Linked DNA regions of Homo sapiens: region 1 is linked to region 2. The links come from fine-mapping of genetic effects on gene expression. A gene starts in region 2. The other region holds a variant in brackets. All regions are shown on one strand. Distances are between the middles of the regions.

Evidence for each region.
Region 1: its variant is fine-mapped to the expression of KLF3-AS1 in tibial artery (GTEx, PIP 0.96).

Annotation. Positions count from the first base shown.
Region 1 is chr4:38,583,797-38,592,639 of GRCh38, forward strand. No RefSeq gene overlaps it. Among named protein-coding and RNA genes, the nearest start is that of LINC02278, 24 kb to the left of the region's middle. The variant T/A (reference allele first, on the strand shown) is at 4,731.
Region 2 is chr4:38,660,544-38,669,386 of GRCh38, forward strand. KLF3-AS1 (KLF3 antisense RNA 1) reads right to left here and starts at 4,350. Exons shown (of 16, transcript NR_171644.1): 1 at 4,251-4,350. KLF3 (KLF transcription factor 3) reads left to right here and starts at 3,656. Exons shown (of 6, transcript NM_016531.6): 1 at 3,656-3,918. RefSeq lists enhancers at 1,524-1,845, 5,880-6,730, 6,731-7,580, 6,770-6,819, silencers at 2,557-3,076, 3,107-3,376, 3,387-3,986, 4,047-4,396 and a promoter at 3,116-3,918.

The DNA of each region.
Region 1 (8,843 bases), 77 kb before region 2:
GAGACAGGAGAGAATAGAAAGAAAGAATGGCTAGTATAAAACTGTGCACAATCTGAAACCATTCATATTTGGCATCAGCAAACTGTATTTGTGTGCGTTCATGAACCCAATCTTTTCTTCTTTCCTTGGACTGGCATGAGGGTAAATTGCATTCTCCATGCACTCAGTAATCAAGTAAGGAATACGCAGCTTAGAAATTGTCTCACAGGTAGGGACATGCAACCTGCAATCAAATGAATTATAAAATTTTAGAGCAGAAAGCCTTAGAAAATGCCTAGTTCAACTTCCCCACTCCCTAGTTCAATGCAGTCATCTTCTTTGTAACATTGATTCCATTCAGCAATCATTTATGGGGTATCTCTTATGTGCAAGTGACTATGCAGCAGGGAATTCAGGAAGAGTAATGAACATCCCTGCCTTCAAGGAGATTACCATTTGATAGTGAAGGTAAAAGACTTACATAAATAAGATCCCAGTGCAAACTGTTAAGGAGACCTAAATATTAGACCTAAATACTAGGATTTCAAGGGAAAAGAGATCTCTCCTAGTGTACATAGGAAAGAGGTAGAATGGGAAAAGAGGCATCCATAAAGATGGATATGGGCTGGGCATGGTGGCTCACTCCTGTAATCCTAGCACTTTGGGTGTCCAGGGCAGGTGCTTCACCTGAGGTCAGGAGTTCAAGACCAGTCTGACCAAGATGGTGAAACCCCATCTCTATAAAAATACAAAAATTAGCTGCCCATGGGGGCACACGTCTGTGGCCCCAGCTACTTGAGAGGCTGAGGTGGGAGAATCGCTTAGATCCAGGAGGCAGAGGTTGCAATGAGTTGAGATGGGATAGATATGCATTTATCACATGATAGTGAAGAGGGAGCAGAAAGTTCCAGATTGAGGAATTATGAGCATAGTATGGAGATAGAAAACAATAAACCAGTGTGTCAGGAGTATCAAATGCTGATAATAACGTTCATCATTTATTATATAAGCATTCTGAATTTTAACCTTCACACTTTTCCTCTCCTGTCTTCTTCATGTAAGTAAAAAGCCTGTCCCTGGCTGGGTGAAGTGGCTCACACCTGTAATCCCAGTACTTTGGGAGGCCGAAGCAGGTGGATCATGAGGTCAAGAGATCAAGACCATCCTGGCCAACATGGTAAAACCCCATCTCTACTAAAAATACAAAAATTAGCTGGATGTGGTAGTGCATACCTGTAGTCCCAGCTACTCAGGAGGCTGAGGCAGGAGAATCGCTTGAATCTGGGAGGCAGAAGTTGCAGTGAGCTGAGATGGCGCCGCTGCACTCCAACCTGTCGACAGAGAGAGACTCCATCACACACACACAAAAAAAAGCCTGTCCTTCACCTAGCTGCTCCAGCCCAAACCTAGGAGGCATCCTTGATTTCCTCCCTTCCCTCAAACCCCATATCCAAACCATTATAAAGCCCAGTCAGCTCTAACCACCAAGATATGGCTCACCAACTCTATCCCCACCAGCTGAGTGTAATCCATCTTCTTCCATAGTATCTTCCTGACTTCGCTTTCTTCCTCCACTCTTAACCTCTTCCAGTGTAGTCTTCACACAGCAGCCTAAGTGAGCTTCATAAAATGTAAATCAGGTCCTGTCACCCCTCCATTGGAGGGGAGCCTCTAATGGTTTCCTGTCACACTGGGAGTAAAATCCAAACTCCAAGGGCTTGTAGTATCTAACTTCTGCATCGTCTGGTCTCACTCATTATGACTTTCTCACTTGCCCACTGTGCCTTGGTCACACTGACCTTTAATTCTACTTTAATTCTCCGAGCTCTTCCCCTCTTTAAGGACTTCGTAGCCTCCATCCCCCCGTCTGGAACGCAGACCCATGGCTTGTCCTCTCACTTCATTCAGACATCTTCTCAAATGTCATCTTCCCAGAGATGCCTTCCCTGACCATCTAAGAGATCCGCCGTCTCCATCGTTCCCTGTATCCTGCTTCATCTTTTATTTTTCTAATCTCCCAAGGCTCGGTCATCCATATCCTGCTTCATCTTCTTCATAGCGCTTTTCATTACCTGAAATCATACTTTATATTTGTTTGTTCACTTACTTCTTATCTGCATTAGTATTAGTTTCCTGTTGCGGCTGCAAAAAATTATCACAAACATAGTGGCTTAAACAACACAAATGTATTGTCTTAACACTTCTGGAGATCAGAAGTCTGAAATGGGTCTTAATGGGTCTCACTAAAGCTAAGATTTCAGTAGGACTATGTTCCTTCTTGGGGCTTTAGGGGAAAATTCATTTCCTTCCCTTTTCAGCTTTTTTTTTTTTTTTTTTTTTTGAAATGGAGTCTTGCTCTGTCAGCCAGACTGGAGTGCAGTGGCATGATCTCAGCTGACTGCAACCTCCACCTCCCAGGTTCAAGTAATTCTTCTGTTTCAGCCTCCTGAGTAGCTGGGACTACAGGTGCATGCCACCACATCCAGCTAGTTTTTTTGTGTTTTTGGTAGACACAGGTTTTCACCATATTAGTCAGGCTGGTCTCGAACTCCTGACCTCAGGTGATCCACCGACCTCAGCCTCCCGAAGTACTGGGATTACAGGCACGAGCCACCACGTGCAGCCTCTTTTCCAATCTCATAGGAAAAGATTCTGCATTCCTTGGCTTGGGTCCCCCTTCCATCCTCAAAGTCAGCAGCAGCCGGTTGAGTCCTCCTCACATGGCATCACTCTGACACTCTCCTGCCTCCCTCTTCCTTCTTTTAAGGACCCTTGTGATTCCACTGGGCCCACCTGGATAATCCAGGCTGCTGTCTCTATTGCAAAATCAGCTGATGAGCAACCTTAATTCCATCTGCAACCTTAACTCCCCTTTGCCATGTAACCTACCATGTTCATAGGTTTTGGAGGCTAGAACATGGACATCTTTTTGGGGTGGCATTATTCTACCTCCCACCCCACAAACACTAGAAGGTAAGTTTCATGAGGGGCAGAACTGGGCCTCCTTCATCATTCTCCGATGCCTGGCACATAGCAATGTATATTACTCCATATACGTTAGTTAACTAAATTCTTGAATGCAACCTACTGTTCCAAGAGCTTTACATGTATTATCCCAATTCCATCATCACAACTACTCTAAGAAGTAAGAACAATTTGTATCCTCATTTACATTTGAGGAAATAGAAGCACAGAGAAATTAAGTAACTTGTCTAAGGTCACATAATTAGCAAGTGCCAGAGCCAGGGCACAAACAGAAGCACACAAACTCTAAGGCCTGTGCTCTTGACCACTGTGCTACATCCTCTTCATCAGGGAGTCATGGAAAAGATAAGGTAGGGCCCCAGTAGAACCTTCCTTGAATGAACTTTGGTCTAAATGGTAAGCACCAGCTGGGAGAATGCCATTCTCTCTCACACATGCCTATTCAGTCTGTGTCTAGATACTGTTGATGGAGACCAACTCACTATTTGAGGAGGAAGCTTACTTCAATCTTTCAGCCAGGTCTGCTTTTGGTCCAGCTAACCACAGCCACCCACAGATTCCTGAGGATACTTTCAAGCTAAATGCAAACTCATTTTTCCTGAGCAGGCCTTCTACACAAAATCTTTCTCTGCTTTCCTACCCTGGTAAACTGGGCTGGGCCTTGAAGTAACTGTGGGACCCCACCACCACCTTCACTTCCATACTAGATCAGAGCCAGCCTCAGCAATCAACTTATGTGGGCTTTCTCCTGGATTCCACTCTGCTTTCACTCAAAGACCAAAAACCTCTACTCTACACACAATACCCCTTGCTCCAAAACTCAGCACCCAGAATGCCTCAGAGGAGGGAGAGTAAGTGAGGGACTTTCATAACCATTTCCCTTCATTCCTCCCCCAAATTTCTAGCTCCCAGGCAAGGAGAGGGGGTGGATAAGGCTTTGTTCTAAAAGAACCCCATTGAGTATTTGATGAATATCAGGGCCCCTCCCTCAGGAGGGTGGAAAGGAGAATGGAGAGTGGGTGGCCAACAGACAGTATTTCTCTTTTTCTGGCCAATAATCCAGAAAATGGATAATTCCCGCAAACATAATCAAGTTAGTATTCCATGTGTAATTTGGCAGTAGACTTGCTAGTCAACCAATGACTTAAATTGCATGTGGGATTTTTAAAGGAAAATTTACTTAGTCATTTTAATAAGAATATTCCTTGGAGAAAAATTTTTCAAAGAAAACCAATAAGGCTAAGGTCAAAATATTATCTCCAGGTCTGTGTCATATAAGCTGTCCAGAGTACATTATCTCCCCTTTGATCCAGCTACCTTACCCACACATCCACACATTCTCTCTCTCTCTCTCTCTCTCTCTTTCTCTGTCCCCCCTCTCTTTCTCTCTGTCTGCTATACACACAAATATACACACTCAACCATCTCAACCATACACATGCATCCATTCATATAGACACTCATGCACTTCCTCCTGGTATCTCCCAGTTACCCAGGAATTCTCCTGGCCCTTCTCCTGGATGTTGTCCTGCTCTTCATGTGCAGACACTTGCATAATGGCAGCAATGGAGTTGCTGAGGGCCAACCAAGTAGACTGTGGGTATCAGTCCCTATGCATAAGTTGGTTTCTCAGCTCCACCACTTAATATCTATGTGACTTCAGGCAAATTAACTTCTCTGAGCCTCTGTTTCTGTGTCTGAAATTGGCAAAGTAATACCTATCTCATGCTAAATATTGAGCAACAACTATGCAACCAGCATTGTTC[T/A]GGTGCTGGGGGTACAGCAATAAAAAGGATGAAATTCCTGCTCTTGGGAAGCTTATCTTCTAATGGGGAGGAAATGGGTCTCTACCAAAAAAAGATGATTTCAGATAAAAACTATTAAAAATAGAACACAATAATATGATAGAAATTTAAGGGGAAGATGTGGTAGGCAGCTTCAAAGATGGCCACTAATGATCCTCGCCTCCTGATATTCATCCCCTTGTGTGTTCCTCTTCATGTTGAGTGGGCTAACCCAGGTAACCAATAAGATGTAGCCACCATTGGCATCTATATCTACTTTGTGTTTAAAAATCAACTGGTAATTCTGAAACACTGTAGAATGGATAAAAATTATTTTGTGATCATAACTCTTTGTTGAACTAGAGTATTTTTGCAGCATTCCTTGTCATCAGAAACATGGTTAAAATTTAAAACTAGAAGCAGCAGAATAAGGCAATGGGAGGGTGTTATGTCCAAGGACAGGTCATGAAAGACATTGCAGCTACCAAATCACTCTCTTGGGTCACTCATTCTTGGGAAACGAACAGCCACGTTGAGAGAACACTCAAGTAATTTAACAGACAGTCCTAGGGTGAGGTGGTGATGAATGAAGCCTCTTGCCCATAGCCAGCACCAAGCTTGCCAATGGCCAGAGCCAACCTATCATGTTGAAAGTGATCGTCCAACCCTGGTCAAGGCTTCCGAAGACTGTAGCCTGCAGATTCATAAGAGACGTCAAGCCAGAACCACCCAGCCAAGTTGCTTCACAATCCCTGGCCCATAGAAACTATGAGATGATACATTTTATTATTGTTTTAAGCCATGAAGAGTTGAAGTAATTTGTTACACAGCAATAGATAATGTATACAGGGAGCTTTGGATTGGATGAGGGAAGGCTTCAGTAAGCTTCATTAAACTTGGGTTATTGTGAGGATTAACTAAAAAAGTAAAAAAAGTCCTTAGCAAAGGGTCAGGTTTTTAGTCCATGTGTAGTAAACCTCAGCTATTGTAATTTTTATGCTTTGTGGTAAGATTAATCTTCATCCAACACCCTCATATTGCAGATGAGGACCTTGGGACCTAGGAACTTCAGACATTTGCCCATATCCTACAAAGCAAGTATTGGCCAAGCTAAGCTGGAGGCTAGGTCTTCTAGGTTCTCCTAGGCCCTAAGCCACACTTCTTTCTTATTCTACACTCTGTTGCTTCCCTCCTTGCATGAAAAGCTGCTGGAACAAGAATCTGACAAATCTGCACAGAGATTCAGACTCCGCTGAGTCTGCTCCATGCCCGTAGACATGGAGACAGAGCAAGGGACAGAGAGAAGATGGATGTGGTATATGTGGGTCCCGCGACTCCACAGTTGCCCTCAAGGACTTCTTCAGAAGCCAATAGCCATGGCCAGGAGAACATTTCTGGATTTCCATGGAATGCTCTCTTCCTTGCTAATTGCTGTTAGGAGCTCAACAGCTGTTTTTAATATTTTGATGCTAATCTCCTGAAGGGCCATGGAGAGAAGGAAAGAGAGAAAGGCAGATTGTCTGCAAAGCCTAGGATCCCATCGGTACCTCAGCTCCAAAGAGTTTAGCACAGGCTGGTTCCCATGTGCTGCTGTCCTCATTCTTCCCTGGGGTCAAGGATGCAGCCAGCTTTCTTCTCTTGGTGGCCACCACACCCATTTTCTCCCTGGGCGTTCTGTCCTTCCCTCCACCCCTACGACCAGCTGTGGAGTTGTACGTGACCCATGCCCCTCCCTCCTTCCTTACATCCTCTCAAAGATGAGCTCACAGGCTCTGCTTGTTATAAGAGATTCATTGCTAGTCACTATAGAGAAACAGACAACAGACAATGAAAATAACTGAAGTGGGAAAAATTGCAAAACAGTAGAATCTTTTGATGTGACCATGCCACTCCCTTACTTAAAACCTCTGGGTTACTCTGTATCCCTACAGAGCAAATACAGAGATCTTCAAAGAGGCACAGAAAGTTCTTTGAGATCTTGCCTGAGTTCAAATCCTTACTCTGTGCTTGACAGCTGTGTGCCCATGAGCAAGTTATTTAATCTCTTTGTGCCTCATTTGCTTCTAATGTAAAAAGGTAATGATAATATAGGTTTGCTGTTAGAATTATTTAAATGAGTTAACATATAGAAAACCTTAGATCCACATCTGGCATATATCAAGTGTTCAATAAATGGCATCTATCCCAATGATGATGATGATGATGACACCCCTGCAAACTTACCCATTACTTCCTGCTTGAAAAGCCCTCACATATGTATCATGCTATTCATCACCTCCATGTTTTCTTGTTCTGTTTTCCTGTACCCAGACAGCCTTCACTTTCCCTCAAGCCTGGTTCACATCCAGGTCTATAGAGATGTGAAGTTTGCTACTCAAGCCAGCCTTCTTTGGAAAGCATTCAATGCCCATCCCATCATCACCACAGGCTGTCTCTGGGACCCCTCGTCTGTGCTCCTGTAGCATCCTATGTGTATCTCTATCATTATCTAAGAATATGTGTGTGTGTTTGAATGATCTATTAGCTGTGTCACAACCTACCCCAATACCTACTGGGTTCAGATGACAACCATTTTATTTGTTCACAATTCTATGGATCAAGAATTTAGGCAAGGCTTGGCTGGTCAGTTCTTCTGCCCCACAAGGCATTGGCTTAGGTTCATTCACTCAGCTGCATTCAGCTAGAGTCTAGGTCCATGAAGTGTTCACTCACATGCCCAGTGCCTCAGGTTCTTCTCACACTCTCACTCCATGTGGCTAGCTTGGGCTTCCTCACAGCATGGTGGCCTCCTTACAAGTCAGGCTCCTTACAGGGTGACAAATGCTCCTTACAAGTAGCATTTTAGGAGTGACAGAAGCAGAAGCCGTAGATCTCTTAAGTCCCAACCTCAGAAGTTGCACTTTTCTTCCACCACATTCTATTGGTCAAAGCTAGTGAGAGAGAGGGTCAGTCCAAATTCGAGGGAAGGAGTAGAGAGAATGTGTGGCCATCTTGAAGCCACCACCACAGGTTCATCTCTTGTTAAGATTCTGAGCTCCTTGAAGGCAAGGACAGAATTTATTAGTCTTGGTATCCCCAGCACCTAACTTGGACTAGTGCCTGGTATGGAGTAGGTGCTTAACAAGTTGTTGAACTGAACTCCCACACAAACACAGGAAAGCTCTAGAGGAGGATGAGACATTCTAACAAAACGCCCGAGGAAGCTCCTCTGGGAGCTGCCAAAGCCTCCCCGCCCACAACCTCTGCTTCTTGTCAAATTCATCTTCAGTTCATTCCTGGCACAAGGTGTGTGAGCAATGCCAAAGTCACTAATTAAGTACCGGTGTCTCTAACTGGCTTTAACATGGATAAAGGACAGAAGCGAAAGAAATGAGTGTAGTTGGAATGTTCTACAGGCCTATCCAAAGAACAGATAAAATGTGAAGTGCATTTGTATAAACATTTCCAACTCTAGCACTGTGCAGGTCAAGAGCATCCCCAACGAAGAGGACTTTCAGGTCTCCTTATTTGGGAAAACCCTCCCCCAGCCTCATGCAGTAAAAGCCAGTGGCTAGACCGTGAGACTCACTCCTGAATTCCCTAAAGACAGTCCTGTTGTTTTTGCCTATGGCATGGTAGCAGCCCGAGATTGCTGCAAGAATGCAAACCTCCCAAGACCAGGCGCCAAGGGCAGAGCCATGTGAGGTGAGGGCGTGAGGGTGAGTCAGCTCAGACCACCAGCAAGTGTCTGCAGAGAGAATGTCCAGGCCTTGCCTAAGCCAGCATTGGCATAGGCACTTAATTTTTAATGAGCAAACCATTGGGAGAAAAACAAATACAACTTTAAACTGAGTATGCAGGTTTGCTTCTTTGTTCATCTTAGTGTCCACATGTCCTTGGCAATAAGATGGATTGGGTTCATTCCTAACCTAGGATCTCAAACAGCTAGAAGCACCAGGGGCAAACAACTGCAGACAGAGCCCACCTGACACCAACAGGCACGGGGAAGCAGCTGTCCTTCCCTTGCTGTCACTGGGGACAACTTGACAGAGTCAAGCCAGACTGAAGAGAATCACTTACACAAGTTAGAAGTGTTCCAGATGGATGAAAAAGTAA
Region 2 (8,843 bases):
GGTTCCTCTGCTGGGACCAGGCATGGGTATCCTCCACTGAGGATAGGCTTCCCACACCTAAACCAGACTGGCCTGCTGTCAGCAAGGAAAAAGCGCAAAGCAGCTACCACAAAGATCACACTTGAGATTGTCATGTAGGATTTACTGAACACCTGACCATGTTCCAGGCACTGTGCTAGTGTTAGGAATTTTAAAAAGACCCAGGCATCGCTTTTACTATCTCACTCTGTTGCTTAAAAGCACTCAGGGGGGGTAACTCCCTCTTCCCTCCTCTTCACCATTTCAAAGCCCCTGGACTGATGGAGGTATAGTTCACTGCCACTTGCCTCCCTATAGCCCCCACTCACCTCTTCAGCTCAGAATGACTCCTCCCTCCTCGCAACTCATAAACCACATTTATTCCTTTGACAAATATTCATTGAACATCTGGGCCCTGGGAATACATTTTTGCTGAAAAGACAAGGTCCCTGCCCTCATAGAGTTTCCAGTCTAGTGCCACAGAGAGATCATTAAATAGCCAACTACAAGAACGGAAAGTGTTACAAGAGGGGAAATAGGAGGATCCACTCCCATGACCCAAACATCTCCCATCACGCCCCACTAGATGTTACCAGAGCACCTCAACTTGTCCAAAGGTGCAGTGAGAGAATACATATTTGGAGAAAATGTCATTTAAGTCAAGACTGAAACGATGTATAGAATTTAGGGAAATGGGAGTAGAGGTCAGGTTGAGAAGACAAGGCTTTTCTACCTAGAAAAATGAGCATGTGCAAAGGGCCAGAGGTGGGAAGAGAGAGTTGGAAGAAAGGAACGGAAAGAAGTTCAGCGTTGCTGGAAAAGAGTAGGAAGAGAGAAGAGGAAGAAGTGTCTGTAATGACAGGCAGAGGCCAGGCCAGCAGGGGTGGAAAGCTTAGGACTTCATCCTATGGGAAGCCATTGAAGGGACTGACACGATCAGGCTTGCATTTTGGAAAGGGCACTCTTACTCCCGTGCTCCAATGCCTTTTTCATGCTTCAGCCCATACTACAAACAGGATGACAGGATGACCAACAAGACATGGTGGCAACAGGCTGGGCCAGCATAGTGGCCAGAGAGTGGGTAGTGACCAAGGAGGTCCAGGACTCAGTGAAACATGGGCTATGCCCTGCTAGCGAGAAGAAAGGCTTAGGTGCTTCTGTTGGGGTTTTGTTTTTTTTTTGTTTTGTTTTGGTTTTTTTTTTTTTTTTGACAGAGTCTCACTCTGTTCAGTGGTGACATGATCTCAGCTCACTACAACCTCCACCTCTTGAATTCAAGCAATCACCCTGTCTCAGCCTCCCTACATAGCTAGGATTACAGGCGTGCGCCGCCATGCCTAATTTTTGTAATTTCCGTAGAGACGATGTTTCGCCAACTTGGCCAGACTGGTCTCGAACTCCTGGCCTCAAGTGATCCACCCAACTCGGCCTCCCAAAGTGCTGGGATTACAGGCGTGAGCGACCGCGCCCCACCCTGTTGGGCACTTTGAAGAATGATGGTGTCCTTCACTGAGCTACCCAGCACTAGATAGATTCATTTCCGACAAGTTGCATTTGAGCAGCTTCCCACAGGGCACCGAACACAGTGTTCACTAATTAACTGTTTAAAATGGCTTTTCTTCTCCTTTGCCGCCTGCCCCTTCCATATCAAAACCACTCCCTTCTTATCTTGGGTCACACTTTTCTCCGACAGGCCTATTTCGCTCTTCCCCTTTGCGTCCACACCCACATGAACAAGGTAAAAAACATGGTTTATGTGCTTCAAGTTCTCGTCACTGTGTCCCTGGAGAAAAAAACGTACTTTTTTGAGCACCTACTATGAGCCAGTTTCACCAGCCATTCCTAGCACGGTGTTCCGCTAATGCAAACCTTAAGGCAGCCAATCAGCCATTTAATGATGTCAGTGATCAATAAATGGCAATTAGTAATTGACACGAATCCAACTCTTTTTTTTTCTGGAATGTCTTTTATTCATTATGAAGAAAAAAAAAACTCACACCCTTTACATTTTAAAGATGAAGCTTATGGGACAGCACGACGTCCCATGAGCCGGCGTCGGTTCTGGGTATCCTCCACGTGGCCTTTCCTGGACTTGCGTTATTTAAAATATGCGATTTCACTACTTGAGGTTACCGAGTACTAATTTTACAATACTGTGTAGCTACATGAAGCGGCTCGAAATATACTATTATCACTCCGTTTTAAGCAGCACGATGTCTGGATGAAGCATCAAAGCGAGATGGGTCAACTTAAAGGGCCTTTAAAACATCTTGAAGCAATAATAAGCCATACACTGAAGCAGGGGCGGTTTTAAACATTACACAGAACTTAAAACAATCGAACGAATTCGTCCTTTGTTCTTTTTATTACATTAATTATTACATTAATACTGTTTAAAAAGAAACTCAAAAGGCATTAAACTTAGGTACCAATCTACACAAAGTCCTCGAAGGGGCCTGGCTTGGACCGAACGCGCTTTTGTGCCGCCCCGCTCGCTCGCAGCACCCTGAAGGCCACTGAGCTTAGGGCGCTAGGTCCCTAGAAGCGACTTGAAATGAGGGGGTCGCCAGGCCAGGCCCTCGCTCTGCAGGGGAGGATCCGACCAAAGTTTGCCAAGTTTCCAGGCAAGCCCAACTGCGCAAATGCCGCTTTTTAGCTCCAGCGGCAGGCCTGGCCCGTGGGAGTTTTGCCCCAGGGGTCTCCGGGCCTTCAAAGAAAAGTCCCACGAGGTGGGGGGCGCCGCCTGGGCCGCCGGCCAGGGGGACCCGTCGCCCCAGGGCACAAAGAAAGAGCGCGCCTACAGGGTGTCCCCTGACCCCGGCGACTCGGGGCCAGGGAGGCTCGGCGCGCCCCAGCGGCCGCTCTTCCCCTCCCGAACCCGCCCGGCCCACTCGCTCCTGCACCGCGGCCGCCTCGGCTCGGCTTTTCTCTTGCAGTGAGCTGAGTGCGCTCAGCCGAGGAGGGGCCGCGCCGCGCCGCGCCGGCCGCGGGGCCCAGCCCTTCCCGCCGCGCCCGGGGCCGCCCTTCCCGCTGGAGCCGGCTGATCGATGGCCCTGGCAGCCCGCGCCCCCCGCCTCGGCTCGCCCGCGAGCCCGGCTGTGTGTTTTGGAAGCAGCGCAGCGGGCCGCAGCCGTGTGACGCCCGGAGCGGGCAGCGCCGCCCTTCCTTCCCCCCGGGCTCGGGCGGCGGCGCGGCGGCTGGGCCGGGCGGGAGGGCTGGCGGGGCGCGGACTCCGGGGAGGAGGGCGCGGGGAGGGGACGCGGGCGGGGACGCGGGCGGGGGGCGGAGGCCGCGCCGCGCACGCCCAGCCCCACGGCCGCGCCGCGCCTCGTGGGACAGGTTGGGCCGGCGGGGCGGCGCCCGGCTCCGGGGAATAATGAGTGTCTGTCAGGCCGTCCCCGGGTGACTGGGCGGGGCGGGGCGGAGGCGGCGCGGGAGGCGGGGGTGGCGGGGGAAGGGCGCAGGGCGGGGTGCGTGTTTGCGCGAGTGACTCGGCCGACCCCTCCGGCGGCTGCCTCCACCCAAGTGGGTGGGGACCCGCCCAGCCCGGGCGGCCGCGGCGGCTCCCTCTCCCCTCCCTGACCCTCCCACCCCGGGTCCCAGCCTCTACTTACCCCGCCAGCCCCGGGAGGCTCGCAGAGCGAGCGGCGCCGGCGTCATGTGACTGCCCGGAGTTGGTGCCAGGAGCCAGAGGGGAGCCAGGAGCGGAGCCGCGCGGAGCCGGGGCCCGAGCCGGAGCGCAGCGAGAGCGCCCGCCGCACGCGCGCCCGTCCCCGTCCCCTGCGGCCGCCAACGCCGCCCGGACTGGAGCCCTGACATTGCTGCGCTCGGGGGGCTCCAGGCAGCCCGTATCGGGGCCTTTATTTCTCGTCGGCGGCGCCCTGCACCGCGCCTCGCAAAGTAAGTCCCGTCTCCCTCACCTCTGCTCCGCACCCTGGTCCCTGCCGCCCCCCTCCTCGGCCAGTCTGGTTTCATTTTTTCTCCTGGAGGGGGCCGCGGGGAATGGGTCGGGGGTGCAGCGCTGGTGTTGGGGGGGGCGCCTGCGGGCTTGGGAAAGTGTGGCGGCTACACTTAGCCGGGGTGGGGGCGGAGAGCAAGCAAGGAGGAGGGGGTCACGGGTTCGCGGTGAAAAGTGAGGGGTTGAGGCGAGGCACCGTGCGGACCCCGGGTGCGGGGGAGCGGGGCTGGCAGCGCCCGCCGCCGTCCCGGGCAGGGCGCGGGCGGGGGCTCACCTGTGTGGTCCCCGGCCTCCTCCCGCCCGCTCACGATTCCCTCCAAAGCCCCAGAAATCTCCGTGCTCTCCGCGTGTGGCAACGTTGTTTGGAGAAAGGTAGCGCCGCGGCCGCGCGCTCCTGCTCCTCCCCCTCCCGGTGCCCCCCCACCACCACCACAACCCAGGCTCCCGCGTCCTTCCCCTCCCCTCCCTCCGCCCGCGCCCCCCGCCGCCCCCCTCCCAGGACACGGCGCGCGGCCGCTCGCCCGCCACAGCAAACTTGGAGCAGTCTCCCGGCCCTCTGGAAAGAAACTTAGGGCAATTGGGATTGGAGGCAGCATCCCATTCTCGGTTCTGGAGCCCAGGAGCTGCCAGGGCGTCTGGATCCTCCGGGGCAGGAGAAATGAGCTGGTCGGGTTTGGAGAGTCTTCCTGGGGGCATGGAGAGAACCTGCCGCAGTGCCTGGAGCAAGGATTGCAGCGTGGCTGAAGGCGGAAGACGCCTTAGGCAACTGCCTGCAGCCGAGCCTGATGGGGACCCAGGGACAGATCCCTGGATCAGGACCCATGGGACCTACCTAACATTTCCAAGTGGCTTTCTTAGAGATGGCAGATGAGATCTGGAATTGTCATATTCATTTTTTTGGGCAGATAGCTACTGACAAGGAGAAGCACTTTTCTGGTTTAAATTTTATAGCAGTATACAATAATACTAGAAGAATGTGAATGAGACTTATTTTTAATAAGTCAAGTTAAACGGAAATTGGAAATTGCTCACCTTCTTGTATTTCACTAAAATAAACATTTTACACTTAACCACTGAATTTCTTACTCAGAATTTATGTTTCCATTAATATCACCCAAGACATTTTAAATATATTGATTATATTCTCACAAGAGTCTGGTATATGGGAAAAAGTATGAAGTGGTATTCTGACAAGTACCTGAAATGTGCCAGCAAAATCAAGTGGGGAATAGGCCAGTTGTTCATTATAGGTTTTTCCACACAGCAGTTTTGTGCTATCCTTTTCTGTACGAATTTGAGGAGCATTTTTATAAGAGAAATTCATCTGGATGATCTGCCTCACCCTAGGGAAGAAGACTTGCTTTTAGGGGAAAAAACAATCTGCTAGCATTAATATCTACAAATTTTTTGGAGTTAGTAATAGTGTTTAAGGAAAGTGTCCACGAGTGATTTCTTCTGGTTTGAAAAGAGGTATGTTAGTTGACCTTAGGCTGTTAATAGAAACCTGAAATTAGATGTTCGATTAAATTAAACTCCCTAGAGAAACTGGTATCTTCATTTCTGCAGTCAGTGGGCTTTGCTGCAGAACTATTTATTAGAAGAAAAAAACCTAATGTACTATCGGTAAGTTCAATGATGATACATTGTAAAGAACATTTAGCTTGCATGAAAGGGAATGCAAGTACAAAAATCTCAACATGGGAATAACAAAGAAAAGTAACTGCTTAGACCACAAAACCTTGTCAGGTACAAAACGACAACAGAGTTTTGCAGAAAGCTATTGTTTTATTCACTGCAAAGTTTCTAAATTAAAACCCAATCTTCTTGTTGCTATGGGCACAGTGATGCTCTTTTTTTCCTTTTTTTTTCTTTTTTTTTTTCCTTACCTGTACTTAGTCTGCACACACCACATTCTTAAATCTCTGATAACGTAAGCTTGAGTTAAACAGTCCTGGCTAACAAAGTAAAGAGAAATAATGGGAAAGGAACTGTGAATGGATTTTACTATCTTAAAAATAACCCAAAGGGAAAATAGACATTTTAGAATGACTTCTAGAAATTAGTACTCTGGTGTACAGATTGCATAATAATTTTTAGATAAATGTCAGGAACAGAATCACATTCTTAAAAGGCGAATTTCTATAAACGTGTGTATATGTTGAACAGATGAGCAGCTCTGCAAAGATGTGTATAACTGCATTTGAAAAAGACAGTGAAAATTTTGGGTTACTGTAGATGTCCCACAGTCTGTCTTGGAATTTAGTTCTGTGACTAAAGGAGGCTTACAGTTGCTCCAATTTTGGTTCTGTGGGGTACCCCAATTGTAATCTGAATTCCTAACAGCAGTGCTCTATCTTTTTTCCTCTTGATGCACTGAGGCTGAACCATAATCATTACCCTAACTCGGAATTTGATCTGAGCTAGGGACTAGCCATTGGAATGGGGCAGAAAGGGACAAAAGAAATCAGGAGGGAGGCTAGTGTTCATTAGGAAGGTCTCTGCTGCTTGAATATGATAAAATCACATTTCACTTATGATGTTTACTGTATGTGGCAGCTCTTATTTGTAAATAGGGCAGGTCCCCTGTATAAAGCTGGTGTTATTATTCACACCCGTAGAACAAACACCTCCACCCCCCTGTTGTTGTCTTAAAAAACTCCAGCTGCTCATGAATATAGGGTCAGGGAGGGCCGGCTAAATGTTTCTCTGTGCTTTCTCTCCAGCACAGCCAGCAGAGCTGTTTCCTGTTCTTTGTTTCAAGGCTGGGGTTTGCGTCATACATTCCAAGTGGCATATGTGTGCTCTTTCCTGTTTCAGGCTGTTTTCTGGTAGATCAGTAGCCCAGACCAGGCTGAGGTCCCTGCCCCTAAACTCCGTATCCCCACCCATGGAGTTATCATGTCTCTACACACTTGATATTGCTTAAGACGCCTGTGTTATGTCATAATGAGAAGTCAGTTAACCTTTTTACGTACACCCTTTGCTCCACTGCATTTGTCTGGGTGAATAAATGCTTTTACCTTTTTAAATTTTTTATTGCTAGATTGTGATTTGGGGAAACGTGGGTCCATCCTGGCAAAGAAACCTAAAGGAGTTTTGTTTGTATTTGTTTGTAATTCTTGTGTTGAAGTGGTTAGGGCGTTTGTTTTAAGATAGGCATTTTGCCCTGAAGCTGTCAATTTTGGATCAGGATTAACACCTTACAGTTTAGAAGACCTAGCATTATCTGAAAGATGTGGCCCACCCTCGTTCACGTTTAACCCAGGCTGCTCCAGGTGGCTTCCGTGGATGGAGAATTTAAGCAATGTTGGCAGCCTGGCTTTAGTTTAAGTCTTGCTTATGTTTGGAAGGAGAAATCTTTAGAAAAATCATTGAAGCAAAGCCTAAGACATTGAGAAAATCCCGGGATTATTTCTTTTTAAGGACAAAGATTTAAATATCAGGATAATGTTTTAAGGACAAAGATTTCACTGTGCAATATTCTACACCTCATTTCCAACCCGTTTTTAAGAATTAAAAAGCTCAAAGGAGAACTGGCATTAACAAATTCATTTAATGCTAGATTGTTTGGAAAATTTTAATCTTCTATTTTGAAAACAAGAAGAATGCTCTTCTCATTTTTGTTTTACAATAATATTTTTCATTTTTTAAAAATATTCTATCAGTTGTGGGTTAATGAATTTCTAGGATAACTATTTAAGACCTGCCTTAATATTAGTTTTCTGTTGGTTCTTGAGAAACTAAGATTTAAGGAAATATTTGCTTGAAAAAGAAAAGTTTTGGAAAGTGCTTTTGTAAACTTACTTGGGGATTTTTTTTTTTTAATCAAAAGGAATCATCTACAGCATCTCTGTGGAATTAATTTAAAGAGTTGCTGAAGCAGCAAATCAGGCTCTCTTCTCCCCAAAATTGATGATAATGGTGCGTTTTAAATGTCACATTCCACCACATTCTTTATGTATAAATGGAAAATATAAAATATGATATTAAGAGAGTTATTAGTATCAAATAGTTGGCTACTGATAACCTTCTATGAAAAAAGCTGGGAGTTTTAGAAGTCCCAATAACTTCTTTCTCCTTTGGGAAAAGCAGCTGGAAATACTTAGCTGACCTGTAGGACAAGAGACTTTTAAGCTTAAAATTCATAAGTAACTCCAATCGAAGCAGGTTTTTTTGTTTGTTTTGGTTCCAAAGTTGTTAACAATCTAACTAGGTTTGGTAAACAGAGTCTTTATTTGGCTTTCCCCAAATTCTTTCTTCTCTCTTTTGCAGGGAGATGAAGTGGTTAATAGAGATAATTAGGGTCTAATATATTCTATCAGAAAAAAATTCTGCAAGCTTCTAAATGCTAAGCTGAATAGTTGGGGAAAATTATCCTATCTTATAGTTGCTATGATTACCAGAAAGATGGGAACAAGAGTTTTAATTTCTTAACCATATAAATCATGATTCCTAATTTAATTTCATTGTGTCTCCATCGCCCCTTGAGATACTTGCCTTCTTAATATTTTCAAATCAACATTTTTGCTATAAAACGACAGATTTCTTAGGCAGCATTTCTTGTTCTCTGTTTTCACACCCAGTTGAGTTTAAGAAAAATAAAATACACACAACCTCATTCTTTAAGGTACTAGGAATTACAATTACATTATTCTGGAACTTGGATTCTTTCTGAAGTGCATCATTTATCATTGGTTCTAGCTTTTTAAAAAAGCAAATCCCTAGAATCTTAAAACAATTGATATCTAGTTTGCTAGTATGTGATATTCTAGTCAGAATTCCTCTTGGGAGTGAGTTGGAAGAGGGTTATGGTGGTCGCTAGCATTCTCATTTTCAAGACCACTCTGTTCCTTTCTTAGACCATGTT